4 linked regions of the Homo sapiens genome follow. The protein of the gene in region 3 interacts with the protein of the main gene of each other region in a pairwise test. Each region holds a gene or a part of one and is shown on either strand. Other genes may lie near its edges. The genes, in order: KRT75, RBM10, DHX15 and AGGF1.

Evidence for each region.
Region 1: the proteins of DHX15 (region 3) and KRT75 interact in binary tests that used the Homo sapiens proteins (3 or more experiments, as listed by UniProt).
Region 2: the proteins of DHX15 (region 3) and RBM10 interact in binary tests that used the Homo sapiens proteins (3 or more experiments, as listed by UniProt).
Region 4: the proteins of DHX15 (region 3) and AGGF1 interact in binary tests that used the Homo sapiens proteins (3 or more experiments, as listed by UniProt).

What each region holds. Positions count from the first base shown.
Region 1 is NC_000012.12:52,431,363-52,438,395, forward strand, and holds the start of KRT75 (keratin, type II cytoskeletal 75), read right to left. Parts: upstream 3,010-7,033; 5' UTR 2,943-3,009; coding exon 2,445-2,942; intron 1,891-2,444; coding exon 1,676-1,890; intron 705-1,675; coding exon 644-704; intron 277-643; coding exon 181-276; intron 1-180.
Region 2 is NC_000023.11:47,176,217-47,183,242, reverse strand, and holds part of RBM10 (RNA-binding protein 10), read right to left. Parts: intron 6,744-7,026; coding exon 6,657-6,743; intron 4,141-6,656; coding exon 4,080-4,140; intron 3,925-4,079; coding exon 3,748-3,924; intron 3,698-3,747; exon of another isoform or gene 3,462-3,697; intron 3,364-3,461; coding exon 3,203-3,363; intron 3,032-3,202; coding exon 2,934-3,031; intron 2,825-2,933; coding exon 2,737-2,824; intron 2,029-2,736; coding exon 1,842-2,028; intron 1,737-1,841; coding exon 1,597-1,736; intron 1,495-1,596; coding exon 1,377-1,494; intron 1,293-1,376; coding exon 1,201-1,292; intron 1,082-1,200; coding exon 917-1,081; intron 1-916. UniProt on the Homo sapiens protein: Binds to ssRNA containing the consensus sequence 5'-AGGUAA-3'. May be involved in post-transcriptional processing, most probably in mRNA splicing. Binds to RNA homopolymers, with a preference for poly(G) and poly(U) and little for poly(A).
Region 3 is NC_000004.12:24,539,547-24,546,572, forward strand, and holds part of DHX15 (ATP-dependent RNA helicase DHX15), read right to left. Parts: intron 3,481-7,026; coding exon 3,394-3,480; intron 2,477-3,393; coding exon 2,327-2,476; intron 1,403-2,326; coding exon 1,294-1,402; intron 754-1,293; coding exon 562-753; intron 1-561.
Region 4 is NC_000005.10:77,026,447-77,033,427, reverse strand, and holds the start of AGGF1 (angiogenic factor with G patch and FHA domains 1), read right to left. Parts: upstream 3,025-6,981; 5' UTR 2,662-3,024; coding exon 2,452-2,661; intron 1-2,451. UniProt on the Homo sapiens protein: Promotes angiogenesis and the proliferation of endothelial cells. Able to bind to endothelial cells and promote cell proliferation, suggesting that it may act in an autocrine fashion.

The sequences.
Region 1 (7,033 bases), on a different chromosome or scaffold from region 3:
AGTTTAGTATGACAAGGCTCCAAGTGGTTCTCCCTGGTCCCCCTACCACCCAAGCCCCAGCTTGAAGTATCCAAGCAAGATGCTGGGCAGAGGCACTGAATGAATGAATGGCACAATGCATCATCCTTTTCTTTCCAGGCTCCAGACCTAGGAGAGACAGAAATACTTGCAGACTCTTACTGCATCAAAGACTGAGTGGATGAAGTTGATCTCCTCGGGCAGAGATTTGACCTTGGCTTCCAGCTCCACCTTGTTCATATAGGCAGCATCTACGTCCTGGAATGACAGCGCAGGATGCTCCTTTGAGTCTGCAGCCCCAAGTATCTAGTCCAAAAGAAGCTGAGCAGATTTCTCCCCAGCCCATCTAGTTTGGATTTTAGAAAACTCTGGGTCTGGGTGATTTGGGGTTGGGGATGGGTAATTACGGAGAACTGGGGGCTTGAATTCCCTGAGCTCACAGAAACCCAAGTAGGGCTAATGGGGCCATCAACGTAGAGGGAACATGTTGGGAGGTTTGAACTCTGCAGATATTCTCAAGGTTGATGTGACATTTCTTGGGTGGCCCAAGGGTCAGAGGTCAGGTTACCCCACACTCCAGATTCCATTTTAAACCTTCTCCTTTGAGAGAAACATCCCCACTCACCTTTTTCAGGGCTACAAATTCATTCTCAGCAGCTGTGCGCTTGTTAATTTCATCTTCGTACCTATAAGGACAGAGCGGGGGGTGTGCTGTTGAGCAAGTCTGCATTGAACTCTTTCCAGGCTGGTGTAGCAAGAGTTAAGAGCCCTCAAATCATTTCCAGCTCTTCTGCTGACCTGGGCATGACTTTGGGTGATTCATTTAACCTCTATTTCTCCCTCCATAAAAGGGGGATAATTTCTTCTGCTAGTTTTTAATAAACTTTTCTAAGAGTAGAAGGTGAGCATGGAACTTAAAGGAATACAAAAATATACTTATGCAACTCCATCTTTTGATAGATATGCAATGCTAATCTAAAATGTTTTTCCACCTCAAGTGTCTACCGAAATCGTGGAGTAAACTTTATCTGTTCAGCAGGCTGTTTCGGGTAGATTTTGATATATTTTCACTGAACCTCAGGGTGGCCCCTGAGAAATATGCTTTTTGTAACTAGGGGTAGCTCAAGCTTAGAAATAAGGGCAAGCTGGCTAATGGGTTAGTCTGGACCAAATCCCTTTCCACTGGATACCTCACCTACTGCAGCCTGGATGATGTGCAGTCAAAAGTTTCCCCCCACAAGAAAAGTCAGATTGCCCTCCTTTAAACTCTTCCTTGTTACCTCTCTTCACTCTACAGTGAATGCCATCCTGGAAATGCAAACCATCTCAATAATTGAGCCCATGTCCAATGGAATTAAACAATATGCTGACTGTGAAATTACATTATGATTTCTAGAGTGAGTAGCAATATTTTGTCGGATGATGTTGATATCCCTTTGCAGTCATGTGAACAAATAGGAATAGGATCTTCATAGCAATACACAAGATGAAGGTCCTTGTGCTACCCCACACAGTGCTGTCTCCACCTTGCAGGATAAAGGCTGCAGTTCCAAAGCTCCCGGCTGATATCGGCATTTGCTCCTTTGCACCTCTCTGGTCCTCACACAAAGGAGCCTTCAGATGGCTGTGTGTGGCCAGAAGCCAGTCTCCCACTTACCTGACTTTGAAATCTTCCACAACATCCTGCATGTTCCTCAGTTCAGCTTCAAGCCTGCCCCTCTCGGTGGTGATGCTTTCCAGCTGCCGTCGGAGCTCACTGGTATAGGAATCAAAGAGGGGCTCTAGGTTCTGCCTCACAGTCCTGGAGCCCTGCTCCTGCAGGAGGGCCCACTTGGTCTCCAGGACCTTGTTCTGCTGCTCCAAGAACCTCACCTGGAGGGAAGAAGAGAGAATGAAACCTTGAGAAGTTGGAGAGGCAGAGTTAGACACTCCTATTAATAAGGGAGAGAAGAAAAAGATATTTTTTTCACTTGGCACCCATTGACAATAATGTAACTGACAACTCCAACCCAAAAGGAGGCAGTCCATGGAGCTACCGCAAAGTTCCCTAGGGCTTGCATAGGATTCGGGTGGTGGGGCCTAGAGGCTTCTGTTGGGGAGCTGCTCTTGGGTTAAGTTTCTCAACACCACCTACTCTGGGTTAGGGTAGTTTGCTGAGCAGCAACTCTCCTGTAGAGAATCAACAAAACTCTTCCCTTGGTGTTGACTGAACCAGCCCATGTGGCTCCGAAAGAGAGGAAATTTCTACCAGGTCCTGTGGGGCAAGCTGGCCTGACTTGGAAGGGTCTCAGCCCCTGGGAGCCCGTGCTGAACAGTGCTCATTCCCACAGTGGGGTCATTGCATTATTGCTCTCCCCCCATGGGATGGCCCTTCCAAGAGTTTATTTGATCCCAAACCCAAGGGGGTGGATGAAGCCCCTGCTTACCTTGTCGATGAAGGAGGCGAACTTATTGTTGAGGGTCTTGATCTGCTCGCGCTCCTCGGCCCGCACCCGCTGGATGGTGGGGTCGATTTGCAGGTGAAGAGGAGTCAGGAGACTCTGGTTGACAGTGACCTCTTGGATGCCTCCAGGGGGACACACGGGGAAGCTGGGGCCACTGAAGCCTCCTCCAACTCCACCCCCATAGCCAAATCCACTGTTGACTCCAAACCTGTTGCTGGCCCTGCCACCAAAGCCACTTCGGCAGCTGCTGCCACACCCATTGATGGAGACCCGCTTGGCACCCCCCAGGTTGTAGAGGCTGCGGCTTCCAAAGCTGGCCCCAGCACTGCTGATCCTTCCCAGGCCCCCACTCCCTGCTGCAGAGCGGGCCACAGAGACAGAGCTGAAGCGGGAGCGGCCAGCTGCCGGGGTGATGGCCGAGGTGGTGCTGAAGCCCCTGCGGCTGCCAGACTGGAAGGTGATGGAGGACTGCCGAGACATGGTGGGTGAGGAAGGCCGGCGAGAAGGCACCTGAGGTGGGCTGGTACAGGCAGTGGAGAAGACAGGTGGCTGGAGAGCCCTGGTCTCGTGGCTTTTATGAGCATCCTGTGGGGGCGGGGCACTGCTAGTGGAGAGGGCCTTCTGATGGCATTCCCTGGGCATCCGCCAACCCTGAGCTCACACTCGGCATCCCTCGGGAAATGGTGTAAGGGCCACTGGCTGGTTCCCTGGCACCCCCTCCCCACAACGTGCAAACTCCTTTCCAGTTGCAACTTGATCAGCATATGAGTAAGAAGCAAGTTAATTGCTTTCCGTCATGTGCTAATGATGCATCTTGTAAAGGACTCAGCAAACACTGCCTCATTTCTAAACCGCTTTCTTAGGCCTGGGACCAACTCCGTCCTGTCCAAACATCTTGTGTTAATACAAGCCACTACACTTCACTGTTTCCTTGGGGTGCTTCCTATTCCCTAAGCATTTTCTCAGCACCTACTGCCTGGTTCCCCAAGCCCCATCAAGCTGTCTTTCCAAACCTTGAAGGTCGCGCTCTGTAATCATCTTCCTTAGGAATCCACCCCATTTTGATTGCCCCTTTATTCTGCTCTTAAGCTTCCGTGTCTATTGTGTAGGTCACACATGGTTTTCTGGAGTGTATGTGTGCCTGTGCCCTGCCCACTGCAATATAATGTGACTCTCAAGGCCAGCCAGTGCTCTGTCTCCTGGGAAGAGAGGTTGTGAGAGGAGAAAGACTCGGGTTTGAATCTCAGACCTGCTCATAGTTGTGGGACCTTGAGCAAGCCATGAAACTTTTCTGTGCCTCAACTTTCATGTCTGTAAAATGGGGTTTGTAATGAATATTCACATGTGAAAACTTTCGCAATGCCCGGTATATGTAAGTGCTGAGTAAATGTCTATTGAGGCTCCCCTCTTTCTGATACAATCAAGTAATATTAAGGAAGTGCCAACCATGTCCATCCTGTGACTAGTCCTGTGGGAATTCAAAAGAAACACAATGCACATTATTTATCTTCAACAAGCTCATGGTCCTGTTGGGAAGATAAAACTGTACAAGATGGTGTACCATGAATCATCACCTCCAAGCTGCATTTGAGGCTGCCTATCCCAGAAGTCTCCCAGGCAGTTTCCTCCTCCTCCTGAGGACCAAGAATTCCTAGCTCTCCAGTCCTTCATCAAAAGAGCTCCAACAGCTGCACCTAGCAGAGGATTCGTTCCTTCCCTGTTTCTCCTGTTAACCTTGTAGACTGTGCCCTACATTCTATATTAGTCTACAAACCGCAAAGAAGACTTCAAGGCACCTCATCTCTCTGTTCTGCAACTCATTGCCCCATCTCTACCATGGGAAGAGTCAAACCAAAACATTGCTGAATCTTCTTTTTTTTTCTGCCTTGAGACAGGGTCTCACTCTGTCACCCAGGCTGGAGTGCAGCAGCTCAATCTCGGCTCACTGCAACCGCCACCTCCTGGGCTCAGGTGATCATCCCACCTCAGCTTCCTGAGTAGCTGGGACTACAGGCATGCTCCACCATGCCTCTCTAATTTTTTTACTATTTTGTAAAAACTGGGTGTCGACATTTTGCTCAGGCTAGTCTTGAACTCTTGAGCTCAAGTCATCCATCCTCTTTGGCCTCCCAAAGTACTGAGATTACGGGCTTAAGCCACCGCGCCTGGCCTGAATCTTCTTTTATCTTGCTGCCTGCTTTCTTCTTGCTGTGGTTTTGAAGCCTGGGAGAGTAAGAGAGGAATTAATCAGCATTCAGTCTCCATTTCGTGGATGAGGGCATTGAGCCCAGAATGGTTAACTAGTCAGACAGACCCACAAGAAGCAGAGCCAGATTCCATGGTCTTTCCACACAGGTGTCCTTTTAGGGGCACACTGGTAACCGACCATTTGGCAGATGTTCTCACCTGCCTGGAATGGCAGCTTGGCACTTGGAGCGGTAGTTCTTTGTTCTCTAAACTGTTTCCTCCTTGGGACTGAGGCCCGGGGGTAAGCCTCTCCCCCATCTAGAGATTATTTGGGAGTCTCAGTTTCCACAGGAAAGATATGAATCATAGCTTGTGTTGATACAGGCCAGGAAGAGCAGAGGAGTTCCTTCACCTGGTTCCGTTGCCAACCCCAGCCAGGGTGGTGCATGGTTCTCAAGTGGAAAGAATAATTATGTTTGTTTTCTGTACTCTTCATTGCATGATAATCTGGCCCCCAGAAGAAAGGACACTTGTTTCCTGAGCCATACTGAGCAAACGCTTGCAGAGCTTTCCACAAAACAAAGGTCTTGGAGGGTCCAGGCGTGGTGAGTGGCTGGGCCAGCATGCCCACGGGAAGGGAGGTCCCCAGCCTTCTCTCACCATGCTTCCCACGTGGGAAGCAGGCTCCAGGCTGCCTTCCCTCCCAGCCATTCCTTTCTTTCCCATGTCCCCTGCTGGAGCCCTCTTCCCAGGCACTTCATCTCATTCTGTTTCCATTCTGGTTTTTCTCAGCCATCACCTCTTGCCTGGGGCTGCTCATTTATTCTTTTCCTCCTTCCCCTCTAGTTTTTCCAGGACTGTTGTTTCTGAAGCTAGACGGTCTTACTCACAGGCTTTGCCGAGTTAGATTGAAATAGAAAGATCGTTCACCTCCCTTCCTCCTCCACTCCCTCTTCTGTGACCTTTGACCTGCACAGTGACCTTTATCCTGGTGGTCAATATCTAGAAGAGTGCCTGGGACACCTGGCTTCCCTGACAACTTGTGTCACCACCCTTTTAAAAATCTCAAAACTCAAGGATTGTTAACAACTTCTTCGCTTTCTGACATTTTTGTTTTGTTTTTAACCTCTTTGTAATTCTGCTTACAACTTATCCCTAAGAAGTCATCGAAGGTGAACTGGGCCCAGCACTACCCCTTAACGCTGTTTGCCTGGAATGCCTGTGTCTGGCATGCCCTTTGATGTCTTCGTTTTCTGGTGGTACGAGTGTTGGTCCACTTCTGAGGGTTGGGCGTTTTCCTCCCAGCTCTGACTAGCCTCCTAGCCACCCCAGATAGAATTGTGGCAGAAGTCTGTGTGATTCAGGCTGTCTAATTTAAAGAAGAACTACACATTCCTTTCTGTTCTCCAGTCTTTCTGCAGCCCTCTCCATCTCTGTGTTATTGGGTCTATCTGAGAGGAGTTTTCTTGAGTTTGGAGAAGTGCTGGATTCAGGGGCCATGGTTTGTGCTCTGGTGCGTGAGGCTGGGAGAGGAAAACTCTTCAATTTCCCTGTTCTCCGCCCATCCTGCTCAGGGTGATCTCTGTTATCCTGGGAGGAACACTAACGTCCTTCGCAGGTGGTGGATCCCAGGACATGGGGCCAGGTGGCGATCAGGGCTGTGGAGGAGGAGAGGAAGTGGGTGGGGGATGCCTCTTCCACAGATGAGGAGTGGGGAATGCCCCAGGGAGCTTTGGCTTCCAGCCAGGCCAGGGCCAGGGCGGGGCCACCAGGGCTAAAGACCATGGGGCAGCAGGGGTTACCTCCCTAGAGCAGGCTGGCCTGAATCATAGAACCAGGGGCCTGGGCGCAGCATCTGAGGACTTAGGCCACAGCCACCTGCCCCCGATTCCTCGACTGCTAGACTTCCCAGACTTCTCCTACTCTCTGTGGAGTCCTGGCTTTAGTGAGTAACTATTTATTAGCATCTATAATATGCCAGGCACTCGCTGTTCTAGCACAGGAGATACAGCAGTGAAGAAAGCAGCCACAACTCCCTTCCCTCCTGGAGTTTATATGGAAAGAGGAGGGGAGCAGAGGTGATTTGGAGGGGCAGACACAATCCGGGTCTCCCAGCTGACACTCCCAGGGGCCGAGTGTGGAGAAGGTAATTCTGTTGTGGACACTCCAGGGGCCGAGTGTGGAGAAGGTAATTCTGTTGTGGACACTCCAGGGGCCGAGTGTGGAGAAGGTAATTCTGTTGTGGACACTCCAGGGGCCGAGTGTGGAGAAGGTAATTCTGTTGTGATGGCACCTGAGACATGCTGGCCAGAAATGCTTTGCCGTCTTCACTATTTGTGCTGGGGTGGCCGCACTTCCTCAATGTTTGGTGTGTCTAATAGGCA
Region 2 (7,026 bases), on a different chromosome or scaffold from region 3:
GGCCCCCCTCCACCTTTTGAGTCTCCATTTAATGCCATCACTGAGTGGGTTCCAGATAAAAAGGGGGAGTTTGGCCCAATTTTCTCTTGCTCTCATGCATGCTCTCTTGCCCTTTGCCATGTTATGATGCGGCAAGAAGGCCCTCACCAGATGCCAACACCACTGGGCTTCCCTGCCTACAGAACTGTGAGCCAAATCAATCTCTTTTCCTTATAAATTACCCAGTCTGTGGTATTGTTATGGAGCAGCAAATGGATGAAGACACTCCTCTTCCCCTGACATACACCCACGCTGTCACATTTGTTGTGCATTTCCATTTTATCATTTAAAAATGCATAGGAATGTTTATTTGTGTATAACTTTATATGCATGACACAATGCCACATTCTATATTTCCATGTTCCCCCCAGCACAGCACCATTTTTAGAATTCATCAGGTTGCTAAGGTAACACTTAGTGCTTGCTTGTAAACGCTACGCTCACAGTGTCACACCCTTTCTCCACAGAGAGACACTGAGGTGCCCTCCATCTGCCCACTCCCACAAAACATTGCAGGGCTTTTTTCCTGCCCACCCCCTTATGGCCTGTGAGAATTTCTCTGGCATACATGTATATTCACCAGCAGAATGTGAGGGTCCCCACCATGGGACAGAAGACACCTGACAGGGCTCACTCGGATGGCACAAGCCACCTCCTGGAGTTGGGCAACCCTGCCACACACTGAGGAGACTGCTCTGGCTCAAGGCCATTCAGCAAAGAGCAGAGCTGGGGCAAGAGCATGGTCTGCTAAGCAGTCACTGCCCACATCCACACCTGCCCGCCATCTCCCTTGGCAGGAGAGGGCAAGAGCTGACAGAGTGCCGTTGCTGGAAGACACCACACAGCCAGCCAGTGACTGCTGGACCCTGGTGTTCACCTGTTGAGCTGTCTTGGTCTTGTGCTTCTCCTTCTTCTCTTTGCCCTCCTTCGAGGGTGCCCCTGTCTCCTTATGTCCGTCGGCCGACTGCTCCAGGGCGGGAACATAGGTCCGCCTCTCCCCATCCCAGTACAGGTACTGCTGGCTCTGAGCATTGTAGTAATACTGAGGGAGGAGGAGGGAAGAGGGGATGTGAGGGAAGACCTTGTGAAGGGAACCTGCAGGGCTAGCTGTTCCTGACGCGACCTGACCCGATCCCATCCCTCCCTGGGCTGCCCTATTACCTGGGAGTTGGGGTCATAGTAGAGGCCGGTCTGGGGGTCATAGTAGTAGCCGGAGGTCTCATCGTACTGGTAGGTAGAGACGTCGGGAACAGCTAGGGGGTGAGGGGAACGGGGTCACACTATTCCCTGCTTTATTAAGAACTCCCCACCCCTACCCACAGGCTGTGGCTACTCACGGTACTGGCTGTAGGATTCCTGGGCAGTGGGGCTGGTAGCCGGTGGGAGAGCAGAACTAGGATGGGTAGGGCTCTGGAGCTCAGATTTGAGCACAGCGGGTGACATGATGGTATACGACTGGTCATGGGGCCAGACAGGAGAACAGGGCTCAGTGTCTGCCCATGCCACCCCTGCCGCCTGCCTGCCTCCCCGGGATACATACCCACAGGGCTCACTCACCTGGCTGTTGGCAGCAGTGCCCTGGCTACTGCTCGCCTCGGCTGATTGTTGGTAGATGCCAGGAGCAGCACCAGGCTGGGCGCGAGAGAAAGCCTGCATCGACACAGAGTCGGCCCCAGGCTCTAGGGAGGCCTCGGGACCTGTAAGGAGGGACAGGGCAGGGACAATGCCTGTGAATAATGGGGCCGGGGACTTTATGCCTGCTGGCCCCCACCACAGCTGCAGAGAGAGATGCTGGGGCTCACCTGCTCCAGTGGGATCCCCTTTGGTTCCAGTGATGCCAGGGCCCTTGGTGCCCTTGAGGTAGCCATGGGCATAGAGGGAAGACTCTGTGCCCTGGCTGTTGCCATAGCCCTCATCCTGTTGGTAGTAGCTGTAGTCGACCGGCGGCTCCTCGGAGGTGGCCCAGGTACCCTCCCCACCTTGGGAGGCCTGAAGGGCAGGTGGGAGGGGTTCATTAGAACAGGAAGGTGTGGGGGTGGGGGGTGGGGAACCTGCTAGAAGCATCTGTCCCACACGTGGGGCTAGTATTTCTACCTGACAGACAAAGCATGCAGCCTTAAGACAAGTGGAAAGCGAGGGTTGCCTGGCCACAAGAGAACAAATAGGCCAGTGGCAAACACAAGACAGAAAAACAGATGAACGCCAAAATGTTCCAGGGCTGATTCTGCTGATTCTGCTGTGTGTGGCGTGTGTGTTGGGTGTCAGGCCAAGGAAGACACCATCTTCTTACTTCTTTATTCTCTTCTCCCAATTTTCTCTCAACCACTTATACGTTATTTTTATTCAGGAACATATGATACGTGTATATCATATATGTATATATTACATATAAGGATATGTGTATATCATACCTATTCAGGACAATAAAAACCCCACCAAACAGCACAGAATGCCAGGCACAATGGCGTCGTACATGAGCGCATGGGAGGCAATTGGGAAGAAAGCTGCGGTGATGATGAAGGGGAATGTCCCAGGGGGTCTAGAGAGCCAGGAGCAAGGTAGAATAGCCATGCCAGCTACTGGGAGAGGGTTTTGCATCCATGGATAGCAAGCCAGCCTTCCTGCTTCAGAGAGGGTGCAGGAGGGTTGAGAAAGCCCAGGTCTCAGGACGCTGGGAGGCACAAGGGGTCTGAGTACCTGTGAGATGGCCCACTGGGCCGCAGCAATGGCAGTGCTGGCCACAGAGGCAGCACTGATGCGACTGCCTTCATTGGAGGCCATGTCCCTGAGGAGGATGTTAGAGACTGGGAGTGAGATAGGAGGCCCCAAGCGGTAGGGGGGAGTGGGAGGGTGGGGAGGGGAAGGGTGGGAAGGCACACAGGTGGGGCCCTGACCTCTTAGAACCCTTGGCAAACTCAACATTGATGGTCTTGCCGTCGATAGTGAGTGGTGGGTGCAGGGCCTGCAGGATCTGCAGCAGCTGGGCTGCCTCCTGTGGGAGGAGGGGAGGCAGGGACAGAAGGGTCAGGCCCGGGGAGGCCCCCGGCTCCATTGCCCGATTTCCAGGCTGGCAGCCGCGGTGGGAGGCTGGGGAAAAGGACCCTCGTCTCCACCCCGGGGGCCGGGACCCTGGCTGCCCGGCCCCCAACTGTGCCGCCCTCACCACGATGGTGGAGAGCTGGATGAAGGCAAAGCCGCGGTTCAGTTGGGTCTGCTTGTCCTTTATGACGCGCACGTTGGAGGAGGACAGCACCGCGTAGGGTGCCAGGGCCCCCAGGATGGAATCCATGGTGCTGTGTGGGTTCAGGTTGCGCAAAATGATGGCTGTGGGAAGGGGCCCAATGTTAGAGGACACCCCTGGCACTCTTGCCAGCCCTGCCCTTCAATGCCCCCACTGCTCCCTTTCCTCTGCCCCCACTCACTCCGTGCCTTTGCAACTGCCGCTTCCCTCACTGCTTCCTCCAGGATCAACTCTGCTTGGCGGTCCAGGTGCCAGCCTGGCTGCCTGTCTGCTGAGAACCTTCCCGACACACCCCCAAAGTCAGGTGGGATGTTGCCACTCCCCCTGTTCTCCCTACATCAAATGTCTATCCCCGCACCAAGTGGAGATTCCATGAGGATGAGGTCCTGCTCACTGCCATTTCTCTGGTCTTGGTGAGCCCAGCCCGACACCCTAGGGCACAGAGGAAGAAGGAACAACTGACTCACTGTCATTGGCGTTCTCTGAGCTTGGCTCCGAGCCCTGTGACAGGGCTTGGGAGGCCAGGACTCCCTGGGCCTGGTAGGGCTGCGGCAGGGGAAGCAGGCCCTGGCTCAGCTCCCGGCCACCCAGTGGCAGTGTCTGCTGATCCAGCCTCGTGCCGAGGGGCAGCTTCTGCTCTGCCTCTGTCAGGGGCAGTGGGAGACAGGCTGGTGATAAGGGGAAGGCTCCACGACTGGTCACCCTCCTCCCTATACCAAGCCCTGAGCACAGACCCCTCACCCTTCCCTTCTCCCCAACCGCTCCGCCCTGGAGAGCACGAGAGGTAGGTGGGCCTCACCTGACTTGGGCACGCCACATTTGAAGCACTTCTCTCGGCGTTTGAAGTTCTGGACGCCACACTGTGAGGCACAGGCCAGGCCGTCAGAGGGAGCAGGGATTTCCCACTGCACCCTCCAAACTTGGATGAAGAGATCTCCCAGGGACCCCGCAGTGCCCCAGGAAGGAAAGCCCCTAGGCAATGGTGGCAGGTGCCTTCTGAACCTTCTGATGTTGTTCTCAGTACTGTGCATCTTCCCTTTCCAGACTCTCATTTGTCCTCTGTGCCAACCCACTCAGCTCAGGAATAAACAACTCCCCCATTTGGTACAACAACTCCCTCCTCTCCTTCCTCTGCCTTCTTAAGGCCACCAACTCCCAGGACTGTTCCCCGCCTCAGGTATTCAATCCCTTTATTAGGTTCCTCTCCCTGAAACTTGCTCCTCTATTCAGAAACCTTTCAGTGTTTCAGCCCTAGAAGTCAGTAGCCAGACCCGCACCCCTCCTCTTAGCTCTAGGACTGGGTTGGATCCTGCTACGCTTGAGAAATTTTCCTTGAATGTTCCAGCATCTGGAGACCCAGCTTCTACCACACTCCATCTCTGTTCCAGACTCAGGTACTAAGCACCACTCCTGGGCCAGGCCCTGCTGCACATGGCCAGAACATGGTCTCTGCCCTCATGGCCTAATAGCACAGGGGCAGATGCAGCATGAAGAGGGGCAGGTCGGTCTGCATGGACCATCCAGCAGGGGCTCGGGGAGGGAAATGGGCTGGGGGTGGGGTGCCATTTACTCGGCAGGGACAGTCCCTGCACAGAAGCAGGGAGGTTTGACCTGGGATGCCCAGAAGTTTCATTTTGTTAAGCCTTGCTGGGGAGGGATTGTTATCGGAGGGAACAATGGACTTTCCGAAACTGGTGTGGGAGAGTAAGGGGAGAAGCAAAAGCCAAGGCCGGGGAAGGAAGCCAGTTAGGTAATGGAGGATCTTATGCTTAAGCTGAGCTGGGGCTGGTTAAGCAGAGGAGGAGAGGCGTGGGTAGTCAGAGGTGGTTTTGAGGAATGTTCCAGGTGAGGGCGTGGGAGAAAGAGGACAAGAGGCCAGCATACCAGAGAGGGCTCCACAGTGAGTGGGTGAGAGCGTGACGATTGGCATGAGCAGCGGGAATGGCGAGGGAGGGAAGGTGGCGTTTCTGTGATGGAAGTGACAGGACCTGGTGGCCAACAGGATGCAGGGGAGGGGAAGGAGTTCAAGAGAATTCCCTGGTTTTGGGCTGGGCGTGGTGGCTCACGCCTGTAATCCCAGCACTTTGGGAGGCTGAGGCGTGAGGACTGCTTGAGCTCAGGAGTTCAAGACCAGCCTGGCAAACATGACGAAACCCTGTCTCTACCAAAAAAAATAAAAATAAAAAGGCAAAAATTAGTGGGTGTGGTGGCATGCGCCTGTGGTCCCAGCTACTCTGGAGGCTGATGGCTTGAGCGCTGGAGACAGAGGTTGCAGTGAGCCCAGATTGCTGCACTCCAGCCTGGGCGACAGAGCCAGATCCTGTCTCAAAAAAAAAAAAAAGAGAATTCCCTGGTTTTGAGGCTATCTGGAAACACAGGAAGGAGTTCCACTGTCACTTTGTCTTTATCTCTCCAGAAATGTTAAGCACCAATCCTCTGATGGGACTTTTTTTTTTAAAACAGATGCACCACTCTCCCTGACTAGGCAGAGTACTTCCTGGGGAGAGGGTTGGGGCCTCTACAAACTGTGGAATCACAATGCTGGCCCCAGGGCAGACCTGAAGCCACTGTGGCATCCAAGTCCCTGTGATCAGGAGCAAGGCACAGGGCACAGCTAAAGGTTCACCCATGGTTCCACCTCTCTGAGCCTCAGCTTCCCCTCAGGGAAGACAGAGGTGACTACAAAACCACAGCCTCCAGTTTCAGGTTTGACTTGGCCTGGTCAGAGTGGCCTTCAGGCTTGAGCTACCTGCTATGGGCTCTCAGAACGCTCTGTGCTTTTCTTTCATGATTACAGTTAACAATTCGACTGTGTTAAATGTGGGCCAGGCACTGTTCTGAGTGTTACTCTCTCATTAACACAGCTGAATCCTCCCAACCACCTTTTGGGAGAGGTGTCATTAATATTCACATTTTAGAGATGGGGAAAGTGAGGCAAAGAGAGGCTAAGCACCTTGGCCAAAATCAAGGCCGATCTGGGATAGTCTCATTTCAGCCAGTCTGGCTCTGAAGCCCACATTCTCCACACCACCACTTCAAGTCTACACTGTCACTAATTCATCATCCACGTATATATTTCCTTAAAGTCTACTGGAACTCCAGGCAAGACTGCATTTTAGGAGGACAGAGCCTGCACCAAGTGAACGCTCACTACACATTTGTATATGGCTGGCTAGGAATGGTGACTACTCAAGCTGAGCTAGCAAGGGATAGAGAATGAGAGAGAGAGAGAGAGAGAGAGAGAGAGACAGAGGGAGAGGAGAGATTGGGGGAGGGGGAGAGATGGAGGGAGAAAGAGCGGGAGAGGAAGGGAGAGATCGCCGCCACTGCTGTTGCTGTCTCTGTCCATGACAACTGCTGCCCACCGCCCCTGTACCTTATTGCACAGCCAGTCCTCATTGATCTTGGGCTTGGGGTCACTGTAGTGCATCGACACCTTCTGGCCCAGGATGTTGAGGGAGTGCTGCGGGAAAAAGCAGAGCACAGTGAGGTCCAGGCAGCAGTGCCCCACGCACCGTTTCAGCATAGGAGAAGAGAGTGAGCGAGCCCTTCAGCTGGATGGATGAGGGACAGGGAACGGAGGGAGGTCGGAGAGCGGATGGAGGGAAGAAGGGAGGTAGGGAGGGAAAGCGCCACAGCTCTCGGGCGCAGCTGTTTGCTGCTCTGCCGGGCACACGCACGCACACATGTGAACACACACCACCAGGCACACAGTGTTCGGCTGACCGACGCTTGCCGGACAGTGG
Region 3 (7,026 bases):
AAGTTTTTCTACCATTGTAAAAGAATACCATTATCAGATTAGATTTTAAGCCTAAAATTATACATTACTATTTCTATTTACTTGATATGAAGTTTGAAATTCATGTTTGTTCGGGTGCCATTGGAGTACATATATAGAAAAGGCTCAACTTAATGTATAGCTTTCAGTTTGTCACAGGCACACTTAATAGAGCTAAGTACTAGAGCAAAGTTCTTCCTGTACTTGCAGTAAAAAACAAAAAACAAAAAAACCACAAAGATAGCAGTGATGGACCTTTAACCAAAGAATTCAGTTACAACTGTGCTCAAACTTACTGCAATTTTTATTAGCACTCAAGAGAGCCAATGCTTTACTTATCTTTTGTGCACAATGACTTACTTTACTTTTGTAAGCACTATGTCATTACGAAGCTATTTACAAGGTATTTAGAAAACAAAATTAATTCCTTAAAACCATCTATAAAATCCACTATCATACTAAAAATTAAAAAACAAAAACAAAAGTGAAGTCCACCCAAACTTTGAAGAGCTGGGCTTTTTTTTGTTCCTTTCCCTCTATTACCTGACAACATAGCAGTAATAGATAGGACCTCATTAGAACAGTTGTAGTCACAACTTGCAATAACCATTTTTGCGAGCTGTGGATCTAGAGGAAACTCTGCCATCATGGATCCCAATTCAGTCAGATCTCCATCATCATTTAAAGCAGCCAGGTAATTCAAAAGTTCCAGGGCTCTCATCAGAGTTTCAGGAGCTAGTGGTAAAAGACAATCTATTAGACACGGTGCCTTAAGCAAGCAAAAATGTGACAAAGTACAAACTATTATAAGCAATCTCATTTTTCATTTTGCAGTGGACCAAACTCAAACTCAAACTGTCATCCAATTCAATTATACAGATCTAGCAAACAATGAATCATAAAAACATTGCAAAATTTTCCTGTAGGCAAAACTGTCTTCTTCCGAAATACATTAAATAATTGCTAATTCATCAATGTGTTTATCAAACTGTTTTTCCCCAAAGAAAACTTAGGAATTCTCACATTTTCATGCCCAGAGGATAATTCAATTTACCCAAACCCCCCCATAATAACTTTTGAAGAAAAAAAAAAAATGTGCTCATATAACTGTCACCTTTTTTAGTTTTAATGCTATCATGTAAGACTTAATCTTGATGCATACTGGATGGAAAAAGCAAAATGTATTTAATACATATATTAAATAGGATGGAGAAAAACACTAAGAGTCAATTTTGGTTAAAAGATCTGATAAAAATGTGTTTTGATAAGTCATACCTGGTGGATCCATAAAATCAAAATGTACCAAGTCATCAATACCAAGTTTCTTCAATTGTAACACAACTGATCCTAAATTAGAACGCAAAATCTCAGGATAGGTGTTATCCTAGCAAAGAACAAAAACATTTATTGGTTATGTTAAAAATGCCTCAGTCTCCTCGTTCCAGAAAACAAAAATCTGCTGCCTCCTGAGCTATTTGTTTTGGCATTACTTCTACACTGTCTCAGTAGAGATAAATACTTGTAGGCTAGACTAGAGAGAAACCATTTTTCTCCAACTATCTTTATAGTATTCAGTGTTTGCTACTGTCCATAAAACTCGCAACTGCAGAAAGAAATTCGTATAGTAGTCTTCACTCATCTGAACTCGCAATTTCCATGGTTTCAGTTAAGCAGTGTCAACAGAAAAAATTTTAAAGATTCCAGAAAAAATTCATCAAGTTTAAATTGTGCACCATTCTTAGTAGTATGCTATATACACTATACACCCATTTGTCACTTAGCAACCATCTGTTATTAGATCAACTTTTGCAGTATCACAGTGCTTGTGCTCAAGTAACCTTTTACTTAATAATGGCCCCAAAGCGCCAAGAATATTGATGCTGGCAATTTGGATATGCCAATGAGAGGCCCTGAAGTGCTTCCTTTAAGTGAAACGCTGAAAGTTAGTAAGGAAAGAAAAAAAGTTGAAACCTAGTAACAAAAGAGCAAAAAAATCACATCTAAAGAAAGAATGCATCTTCTATCAGTGAAATTGTAAAGAAAGATATTTATACATAGTATATGTAAGTAAGGTTCAGCATATTCCAGTTTTTAGGCGTGGGAGGGGGAGGGTCTTGGAATGTATCAGCCTGGAATAAGGGGGTGTACGACTATCTAAGTTAATTACACCATACATTTCACTCCTGGAAAAGCTAAGGAGCTTTTAATCCTAAAAGGCAAGATTAAGTAAATAAGGCAATGTTCTTCTGGTAAGATAATTCAACCTAACATTTTAAACATATCGGCAGGAAACGACAATACCCCATACCTGCATTTCTGTTTTATAAGCTTTCTCTGTGTAAAGTCTGAAGCATTTTCCAGGTCTGGTACGTCCAGCTCGACCAGCCCTTTGCTGAGCTGAAGCTTTACTAATAGCTGTCACCAAAAGGGACTCAACTCTGATTCGAGGATTGTAGACCTATTGGAATTGAAATAACACAAGAGTCTTTCTTCAGTCAAACACAAAATTGTGATGCAACAGAAGTATCCAAAGCCCACAGTTAATTCCAAAATAAATAAAGAAATATCGATAGCCATAAATCATGCTGCTACAATAGACAACCCACCATCCTGAACCTTAAAGTTCTTTCAGACATTCTAATTCGATCATCTGAAAGACTCTAACATGAAAAACTTCTTGTCAAACACACAGCTTATATAATCCTTACTCCTCCTAATTTCAGTTCTATCAGGCTGACCTTGTTCCTTGCTTTTTATATGCTGGGCAGTCAAGGATTCTGCCCGAAAAGAAACCTTCACTTTCAAAACTCGACGGTCTGAGTACTATTACTCTGTTACTGTTTAATGAAAAAATTTCCATCAATAACAAAATGTAATCAATTTATCCAAAAGATATTTGAAAAATAAAACGTATTTATTGAATAGCCACTTCACCTGCATTTCACTTCATTTAGTATACAGCACTGTTAAACTAGAGGAGTAACATAGTACTGTTTTCAAATAGTGTGCCTAGTTGACAGCAGTAACTCTAATAATGTTGGGAGAAGTGACTGAACTGCAGGGATAGAAATCCTGTACTTTATTACTAAACCCATACTGTTAAATGAATATACAAGCCAAAACACCCACCGTCACTACACTGAAACAAAGAAAGCAAAGCAACTCTAAAAGAAAAAAAAGCCTAGAATTACATATTAAATACTGTCTTAATTTCTGAGAGCCAGCCAAAACATAAAGGGTTCATACAGCAGAAATTTGCAAATAAAAAAAAAGATAGGAAAATAATTCTGAAAGGTAAATTTTAGCCATTAAATGAATTGGTTGTAAGTACTGTTAAACCAACTCTAATTTATAAAGTATCCACTAAATATGTACCTTCTGTTTCGCAAATCCAGGATCAATCACAAACACCACACCATCTATTGTCAAAGACGTCTCTGCTATGTTAGTTGACACAACTACCTGTTAAGAAATAGAGTATATAAATTATATTACATATCAAATAAAATTAACAGGACTGTTAAAGATCAGCCACTAACTTTCACTGACACAAGGAATTTCAAGCCAGCAAATAAACTAGAAATATCATTTGATCTTCAATGGCCAATGCTTTAAAAAGGTAAATTAATATTTAAGGAACCAAAATTTTGTTTACACCACAACAGCAACTTCTTTCTCAACAAAGCTATTACTTCAGGTTATCACTCAACCGCATTACATTTTGCTTAATCAAATTAATGGACAGCATAAAAAGAAAAATACTGATGAAGCAATATAACGTGCCTTACAAAACGTCTGATAAAACAGCCCTTATAATTAGTATTCAAATTTCCACAAGTGTATATTTCAATGTTTTTGGGCAATATTTACAAATGAAAACTTCGTTATTTATATCACCAAAATTCAACTCAACATTTTAAACAAAATGCCACATGGAAAAAAACTCAAGTTATAATCCAGTAAGAATGGACAGATCAGCAGAATCAAATGTAAATATTTCGGTAAGTGCATGGTCTCAACGGGATGACATGTAATACGTTACTACATACAAAGCAACTGTTAAGAACTATAATTCTTTATTGACGGAAAATGTTTAAAGCATTTACATACTAATATGATAGCTTGTTTGGTATACGTGCATGTTTTACTATATATTACATATGTTTTAGAAAATTAGTTAAGGACTTGGGAAATACATGTTACATATAATTTTTTTTTAAACAATGGGAAATGGGGATTCCTCATTAGTATTTTAACTCAGGACATGATTTTCAGGAACAGGTTACTGATATTAAGTTGAAGATGTCTGTATATGCAAGCAATTGATACAGAAGATGAATCAAACAGAGTCTGCTTTTACCATTTGTAAGGGATGATTAGACATGGATAGAAAGTGTGAGTGGCACCAAAGACACACTGTGAAATTTAAAAAGGTTTACTTCCATAGCAAAGTCAAGAAAAGCTTTACTGAAAAATAATAGCATTTAGGACAGTCCTTGACGGTAAGGTTAAGACCTACTCATGAGAGAAGGAAACAGCACTAGCACTAAAGTTCCATCTTAAAAAAACACATGTGGGAGAAATGCCTATGGGCACATACAAAAAATGAAAAGATTTATATTTATCCCTATTTTATTTTAAAAACACTTAATTTTATAAATCAAATAGCTTTAAAAATCATAGGCTTTTGCTGCATTAACTATTTTACTTAATATTAACACTTTCATTTTCTGATTTCATATTTACTAAGTAGTAGACTTCCCAAAATACTAACAGGAAACCTCAGGGATTTAAAAACATAATAGCAATCTACCAAGAGGGTATTTCAGAATAATTTACAAGTCAAAAACCAAAATGTTTCCTTTTGTCAGTTGAAAAGACTGACAACTAGCAAAGGAATAAGAAACCACATGTGGTTTGATGATGTTGCTGAAATACATTCTTCAGGACATTTAGAAAAATAATCAGCAACTAGAACTGAAGCAAACAACGACATACATAAGGTTAACAGGTGAAACTTGAATAAGCATAACCGGCATTTAATATTCTAGAAAGTCAGTTTCTTGTAGTTAAAGAAGCGATGAATTTAGAGGTAACTGGCAGACCTAGCAATCAAACCTGAGTGGCTAAAGTAACTGGAAAGGTTTTAACACCCCCAAGCTTGTATTCCTTTTATAACTTGCATATTACTTAGTCTACATAACACAGGGTTGTAGGGAATAAATTATGTAAGGATGTGGAAATGCTCTATAAACTATACAGAATAGGCCAGGCATGGTGGCTCACATCCGTAATCCCAGCACTTAAAAAGGCCAAGGAGGATTATTTGAGTCCAGGAGTTTGAGACAAGCCTGGACAACATAGTAAAACCCCACCTCTACAAAAAAATAAAAGAAATTAGCCAGGCATGGTGGCACATGCTTGTAGTCCCAGCTACCGAGGAGGCTAAGGTGGGAGGACTGCTTGAGTCCAGGAGGTTCAGGTTGCAGTGAGCTATGATCATGGCACAGAACTCCACCCTAGGCAACAGACTGAGACCCTATCTCAAATCTATACAGAACCAACTACATGCCTGTAAATACAGAAGACGTCTTCTGGCTTTCTGGAATTCTGGGGTGAAAACCATAGTTCTGAAAATATTTATGAAGAAAATCACTTTTAAAAAAGTTGTTCTGGGAAAAAATACATTTCACATATTTCTTCTATAACATAATACAATGTGATAAAAATTTCTCATGTGACCAACTCTTTAGTTACCATTATAAAAAGTTAATTTTTCTCCACAAAATAATTTCATCCTGTGTGTATGTTTTTTGTCTGGGTGAGTGTATTAAATTCTGTAATACTTAACAATTCGCGGATACATGATTCTGCAAGTGTTTAAGAATCAAATGATTTATGCCAACTTGGCAAACCCTCGTCATTATTGATATTAGTAAGAGCCTATTGCCAGCCAAAAGTCAAACCCTAAAATACAAGTGTTAAATTGAGTCCTTAACAAAAAAGCACAAGTTTTAGGCCTTTCTCAAGGACTAAAAATAGCTAAGGCTAAATACACACACACACAATGCAAAAGCGAACTAATAAATGACAAGATAAAAGCTTCTTTGGTACTTCAGCAGTTGAGTGAGGCAAGCCCTAACCATGTTCTAATTGTAAATGGCACACCATACAACCAGGAACCCATCAGGAGACAAAATGACCTTGAATTTGTCAAGGGATTTACATTATGACCAGTAAGAATCAATATAATTGTTACATGCTTTCTAGACTGCAACACTGCAGTAAGCGTTCAAAGAGCCTTAAAAAGTGTTCAAACCGCATTGACTAATATGGAACAGACCCTATGGTGAAAAGCTTGGCATCACTGTCAGGACATGCTAAGAGTAAATTTTCCTCCCTCAATAACCTGCCTTCTAATAGAACTCACTTTTTTTCTAATAGAACCACTTCCCCCCACTCCGCCCCCAATAACTCCACTTCAAAGTAGAACTCGCAGTACTTCATTTGCCCTACCTGAATACTGTCTGGACACAATAATGCATTTAAACTAATTTGGACTTTTAGTCCCCAGGGAACTCTGTGGTGGTCTCCAACACAAGGACATCAACTTATTTGCTTATAAACATCCCAGCAGCACCACAGTAAGCTATCTTCAGATCCTGGATCATTAAGTCTTTCTTTAAAACTACAGGACCATCTCCACAAGGGCCATTTCTCTTTTTCACTGAGCAATGTATGCTCTGAACCATATTAATCAGCGAAATGTAGGATCAACTATAGAAAAGTCAGCTATTTGTATGAACAAAATTAATGAACACTAAATATTTAAAAAATAATTATAGTTGTATTTTAATAACAACCAAATCCACAAAATAGCAATTTTAAGTCTCAGTCAAAAAATGCAGAAGTTATCTACTGAAGAGTAAACTTGAATGCATGTAAAGAATTACTGTAACTTTTAACTTAGTCAAATACTTGAATAAACTTCAAAAATTATCAAGAGGT
Region 4 (6,981 bases), on a different chromosome or scaffold from region 3:
CTACTACATGCTGGGCACTATACTTGATGCTTTAGATAACATCTCATTAATTCACAAAACCACCTGAAATATTCGTTGTCCTAACCCCAATTTTACACATAAAATATCAGACAAGACAAAGTAATTTGCACAAGGCTATTTTGGGGTCTTGTACAAACCCTATACATATTATGGTTCTCCAGTTATCATTCTCAAGCAAAACTTTTTAACTGCTCCAAATAAAACACATTCAGTAATTTGGAATGACAGTTAATCGAATCCACCCTCTCCCCAACCAAGGGAGGCTGACTAGGAGAGTAAGGAGTTATCACTATTCAAAGTAGAGTCAAGACTTTCTATGAGATTAAATTTTTAATATTGGACTAAAATGGAGGCATGTGGAGGACAGATGATCCTCTCAGGCAATTACCTTCTGTTCGCTTCTGCTGCAGTTTAGTCACAGAACTACTATTTTTTTAAAGTGTATTAAAGCTTATAAGAGGCATTAACATTTAATAACTAAATCCACGTGAACATTGAATGATATTAGATAACATGAATGGGAATTGATAGCTCTTAAATTTTCTAATTCTTTAGGGAGAATTGCTGACCTCTCAAAATATTAGCATAAAAACATTCTTTTCTGTAAGAAATAAAGGATCTGTTCACAAAGTCCCATCATTTAGTCTGATTTATCAAATTAACAGTAACACCAAAATGCTGGCTCTCTGAAGATTAGCAAAAAACGTTTTCTTTTAGAATCTCTAACGCAAGCAGTACTTCAACAATTTAGAATTATAAAGGAGCTTTTCAAAAGGCTGTCATGTAAAAAAGGCTGTTATATTTTGCTCCCGTCTCCCCATTTTTTTTTTTTTTTTTTTTTTTGAGACGGAGTCTTGCTTTGTCGCCCAGGCTGGAGTGCAGTGGCGCAATCTCGGCTCACTGCAAGCTCCGCCTCCCGGGTTCACGCCATTCTCCTGCCTCAGCCTGTAGCTGGGACTACAGGCGCCCGCCACCACGCTCGGCTAATTTTTTTTGTATTTTTACTAGAGACAGGGTTTTACTGTGTTAGCCAGGATGGTCTCGATCTTCTGACCTCGTGATTCGCCCGCCTCGGCCTCCCAAAGTGCTAGGATTACAGGCGTGAGCCACCGCGCCCAGCCACCTCTCCCTGTTTTTTTTTTTTTTTTTTTTTTACCATATTTGTATTTTCCTAGCATAGTTATTACACACCGTAGGTGTTTAAATTGACTAAACAAAAACTTTCCAATAATGTCATGTCAGGAACTCCATGTAATGGTCATACAAAGTCATTGCAACTCAACAGTTATTTTCATAGTCCATTTGGTAACAAAACAAAGAAGTCTGATGACGTTTCAGTGTTCAGCCTATATACTGGTTTTAGGAAACCACCAATAAATTATGAAGGACTAGACAACGGTCAAATTGAAACTAGTTACTATGTGGAAATAATCTGTTGGCAGAGAGGGCCTGCCAACAAGGTAGAAAAAAATACTATGCTCTTGGTTTTTTGGTTTTTATTTTGAGACAGAGTTGCACTCTGTCGCCCTGGCTGGAGTGCAGTGGCACGATCTCGGCTCACTGCAACCTCCACCACCTAGGTTCAAGCAATTCTCCTGCCTCAGCCTCCCGACTAGCTGCGATTCCAGGTGCCCGCCGCCACGCCCGGCTAATTTTTGTATTTAGTAGAGACGCCCGGCTAAATTTTGTATTTCACCATGCTGGCCAGACTGCTCTCGAACTCCTGACCTGGTGATCTGCCCGCCTCGGCCTCCCAAAGTGCTGGGATTACAGGCGTGAGCTACCGCGTCCAGCCAAGGTTGTTTTTAATGTGACAGTTTAAGTATTAACATTTGCCCCTACCATCTTGGAAACGAAATAAGCTGCTTAACGTCTCCAACAAAAGCAGTTATATATCGTCCCTACTTACACAAGAAAGCCGAAGATGATAAACGCCCAGAAGAGCAACCTTAAACAGGTATAGCATTCAAAAGTTTGTAAAATTGTTTGTTTTACTTCACCTTTACTACTGTGAGCTATCATTCTCATTTAATGGGGAACTGAGACTCGGTATATAAGTTCACACACCCAGTGAATAGCAGAGATGGGATTCTGACTCAAGTCCAGCATTTTAATAAACTCAAATGTGATCTACAGTAAATGCGCCTACTGCCAATGGGATGTTAGGTCAAGTGAGAATGAAGACAATGTAGCCACAGTACTTAAGTTCAATTCACGCCAGCCGCGAGACATTGATTTAAATCAAGTAACCTGAACTCAGGTTTGCTCCTAAGGTACTTGGAATTGTAACTGCGCTGAGCTTCTACTTATTTACTTTAAGTACTCTACAGTAGTTCTGAGCCCCTGCCAGGGACCCCTTCCGAGGCTATCACGGGCTTCGAAGGCCTCGCCTGGGCTGGATGGGGCGCGGGGCTGAGGAGGACCGCGCACCTGCGTGCGGAGCTCCTGGTTGTTGCTTTCTGCGTTCTGGTACAGCCGTTCTGTGTGATGCAGCAGCTTCTCGATCTCCCGCACCTGCCGCTTGCAGCTCCGCAGTTCACGTTCCAACTTCTCCACCTTCCGCCTTAGCTGGGCCAGCTCAGGCTCGGGGGAGGTGGGCGGCGGCGGCGACCGCGGCGGGGACGGCGCCTCCGAGGCCATGAGCTCCGGCGCGAGACTGCTCGTCGCCGCGGAGGGGCTGCGTTCAGGCCGAAACGGACGCCGGCGGACCCAGAGACCACTGGAGCGCGCGGGCAGCGAAAGGCAGCCTCACACCCGGCTGGCCGCGGTGGCCCCTGGCCATGACGCCCTGAAACTCACTTGTAGCCGAACGGGGCTGCGAGCAACGAGCAAGGGGACCGAGGATGGCCCCTGCCCGATGTGCGCGGCCTGCAAACCGGAAAACTTTCCTGGAAACTACCTTCTCCAGCTACAGAGACAGAGGGAGGAGCGTCGGATAAGCAGTCGGAAAACCAGAGGCCAGAAGAGCTCCAGCAGCTCCCCAGTTGAGCCGGAAACAACGGCGCCAGCGGCAGGCGGGACCAAGACGGAACAGGAAGCGACGGAAAGCGGGAAGACCTGACAGTGTACGTGCCGACGTCTCGGCCTGCGGAGGGGCGTTACCTGAGGGCGTGGAGAGCTGTGGCAATGTGGCTACCGAAGCCCTAAGAGCGACAGGGAGGCTTGCAGCCTCTGGTCTCAGACATTTGCACGTGCGGATGTTCTTTGAACAAACTTTTAGTATAGCATGCATTTCCTATCTCCTTGTTTTACAAATAAGAACAGAGTATCCCAGAAATGATTTGTGGGGACTATGATGCTCTACTTATGTCAACTGAAGAATGAGGAGGTTAATAAATTTAGAAAAGGGCTTTATTTCTCATGAAGGGTTACAGCCTGCAGGGTGGCCTTTCTGACAGGCTTGGAAGCATAGCCTCTGGTCAGAAGCTGAGAACAGACACTTGGAAGGAAGGACAAAGGGAACAGAAATTTATGCTGAGCAGGGTGGCCAAATATATTCAATGAGCTGTAGGAGGATTCATGAATATTTATGAAAGGAGAAATATGCACATGCACAATTAAGCTTCCTGCCTCTCTATGGGACCCATATTCAAAAAATGGTGGTGTTAGCATGATCCCAGTGTGAAGTTTTCAGCCCTCTGATGTCAAATGGCAAAGCAGAGGACATGAAAACCCTCGCTGTGAGTCCCTGGTAGATTGGCCAGAACTTCTCTGTGGTTGGTGGTCTCTTATCAGGAAGGAATGCTGGTTGGTGTGAAATCAGCCCAACTGTCCTATAGAACTGATGTTTATGGTTTCTTTTGAATAAACCTGGAAATTTACCCTCCCAGTCTTAAAACTTCAGAAAGTTACATCTTTCTTATCTGAGTTCCTTTCTTGGGAAACCAACCATGAGGCCTCCCAGATAGTATCAAGGAATTGAAACTTACCAGATCACTGCATCTGGACAATGAGGCACCATACCCCTCACCCATCATGATTGCCTAACCAGCCACCTGCTGCCTGTTGAACAAGTCCTCATCCTTACCGCTCACTAATTCCTGTTTTCTCACATGTAGTCACATTTCTCCCTTGCCATATAAACCTCTAATTTTAGTTGGTTGAGGAGATGGATTTGAGACTGATTTCCTATTCTCCTTGGCTGCAGCACCCAAATAGAACCTTCTTCCCTGGCAATACTCCTTGTCTCAATGACTGGCTTTCTATGTAGTGAACAATGGGTCTATTCAGTCAGTTCAGGGGCTCAGAATTTTACTTTTATTTCTCATTTAGTCATTCTTCTGGTTCCTGAGTTTAGACCCCCCGGGAAAATAGAGCAAGTACATTAGGTCTGAGTCGCAAAAAGGAGCATCCCTGGTGGGAAAATAAGAGAGAGACAATATTCTGTGGAAAAGGGGAGAAAAATGCTCTGGTTTGGTGCATTTATTTGGTCTTTTGTCTGCATGACCCTGGCATTGGTTTGCCAATATTTAAACTGATGTGGCCTTCTTTGGAACACACTTCCTTCCTTTGCCAAAGTCATTTAGAATTAGATCATGAGCTCAGAGTCCTGGGCCTGAGATTTGTGGAGGTCAGCAGCTGTGTCATGCAGATGCTCCTCTCTCAGGGCCCAGCACAGTGCCTGTCGCAGAGCAGTATCCGTAAATGCTGAACACAGCTGAACAAGAGAATCCTGTTTGGTGTCTTAGATCAGTGGCCACTTCCATTAACTATATTTTCTTATTTTTTGTATTCTTGATGCTCTGGCATCTGGGGTCTCCCTGACCAGGGAGATAACCCCTCCAAGGGTTAGCTAATTCCTAGACATAGCAAACAACTCACCCAGCATGCCACACACTGATCATCTACCTTCTTTATCAGGCTGTTACACTCCATGCCAATATTCCCCTGCCCTAATCACTCCAGGGCAAAGTACCAGACAACTAGGAACAACTCCTACATCTCAGATCCCACTGAAATTATGCAAACTAAACCTGCTTATCCTGATTTGTCCATTCCTTCCTGCAAAAATCACATAATGTTTTTTGCCATGTTTCCTCCCACTCCTTCTGCCTCCTTTGGACCTTGGTGCTTCTCCACATTGCCTTGTGTGGCTTGGTGTGCATCCTCCTCTTGGGCTGGGTGAATAATAAACTGTCTTTTTGATAGCAGACCATCTCCTGATCTGTTGGCCTCACCATACATAAATAATAATAAAATCTAAATTTTAAAATATGGCTCTGTATGTATTTTTGTCTTGTGCACTGCCCACTAGATTATTCATAAACAGTGAGCTTTCCAGCAGAGACCTGCCCTCTCTAGGGCCTGTACACATTCCTCCTTAGGCCTGAAGAGTTCTTCACAAGGCACTGTATCTGGAAACATAGAGATTCTACCTTATTGTCATGTCAAGAGTAACCTTAAGCCATCAAAGGAAGTTTAGTGAGAAGACATGGTATGTCCCCTGTGATGCAAAAAAAAAGATGTATTGCAAAAAATTTCTGACTTCCCTTGATGCATTATGACTCCATTAATGAACATATTGAAGTCCTTTTAAAAAGATGCTATTTTCTACTTTCTCCACCTATTTTCTTTAGGGGATAAGAAATTCCATAAATACCATTTGAAAGGTATCTTTAAGATGATATTTCAGTTTTTAGTAATTAACTGGAGAAAAAATAAATAAGCTTATTGACTGCTACTTGAAGCAGTGCTCCTCTTATTTGTCTTAATCTGTTCAAGGCTAAGTTATCTTTACCTTGTAATACCAGTCTGTATCCTACCTCTGACCATTAGAAAAGAATGACATTTTTTTAGAAAAAGCCTTGAATATCAGGAATTGCATTAAGGTGCTAGTATCAGAGGTGGTCTATAGTGGCTTATTAAACAAATTAGGGTGTTATCCTGTTACATTACAGAAGCCTAGAGAGGGGCAGTCCATGGCCAGTGACTCCACAGTTCTTCAGGGACCCAGGCTCGGTATGTCTTTCTGCTCTGCTATTCTCGGAGCATGTTTCCAGAGCCTCCAGGTCGATCCATGGTGCAAGATGGCAAGGGATGAAAGGACTTTCCCAAAGCCCCACTCAATGGTTCCTGTCTACCTATCAATAGCCACCCCTTGCTGCAAGTGGGGCTGGGAATTATGTGTATATGTGTGTTTTTCTAAGCTAGACGCATTATTCTCCTAATAATATAGGGGTTCTACAAGTAAGGAAGAAGGGCAAAATTCATGTTGAGTATGTAAATAGCAGTCTTTGCCACACCTAGTTTTCAGATCTAAGAGGTACTTAGCATAGTGGGCAGAGGCGCTGCCCTAAAAAAGCATTCTACTTGACACCCTTCACGATTTGATTTTGTTTTGTAATGTTTTTTTCCCACATCCTCTCCAATAAATGATATGAACCATTTTTTGTACTTTTTGCCATTATGAATATAATGAGCTATTTCCTTGCTGTTTTAATTGATACTCCTCTGATTACTAGAGAATCTCATACATTTGTTGAAATGTATATATGTTGAAATGGCTATATGTCCTTTCCTTTCTGTGAATTGCCTATCCATATCTTTTTGCCCATTTCTTTCTTGTTATTTTGCAGTTCTTTATATAAACAAGGTATTCCTTCTTTATCAGTTTTAGATATTACAGATATCTTCTCCCAGTTTGTCATATATTTGTTAGCTTTGTCCAGTGTTCTTTGTTAGCCAGGAGTTCTTAATTTGTATGTCATGAAATCAGTCTTTATTTTATTTTACTTTTTAAAATTTTATTTGGCTTTACAGTGTAGGGTTTCATGAAGACTTTCCTTACCCCAAGTCATATTTTCTTCTATTGATCTTATAATTTGAACTTTCACATTTGTTCTCTATTCCAGCTGGGGGTATTCAGACATGACCTAGTTTTCTCAAGACCATCCCCTTTGCATTGCTTTGTAGTACCACCATCATCTTCCATCAGGTTCCCATCTTTATATATGGGCCTAG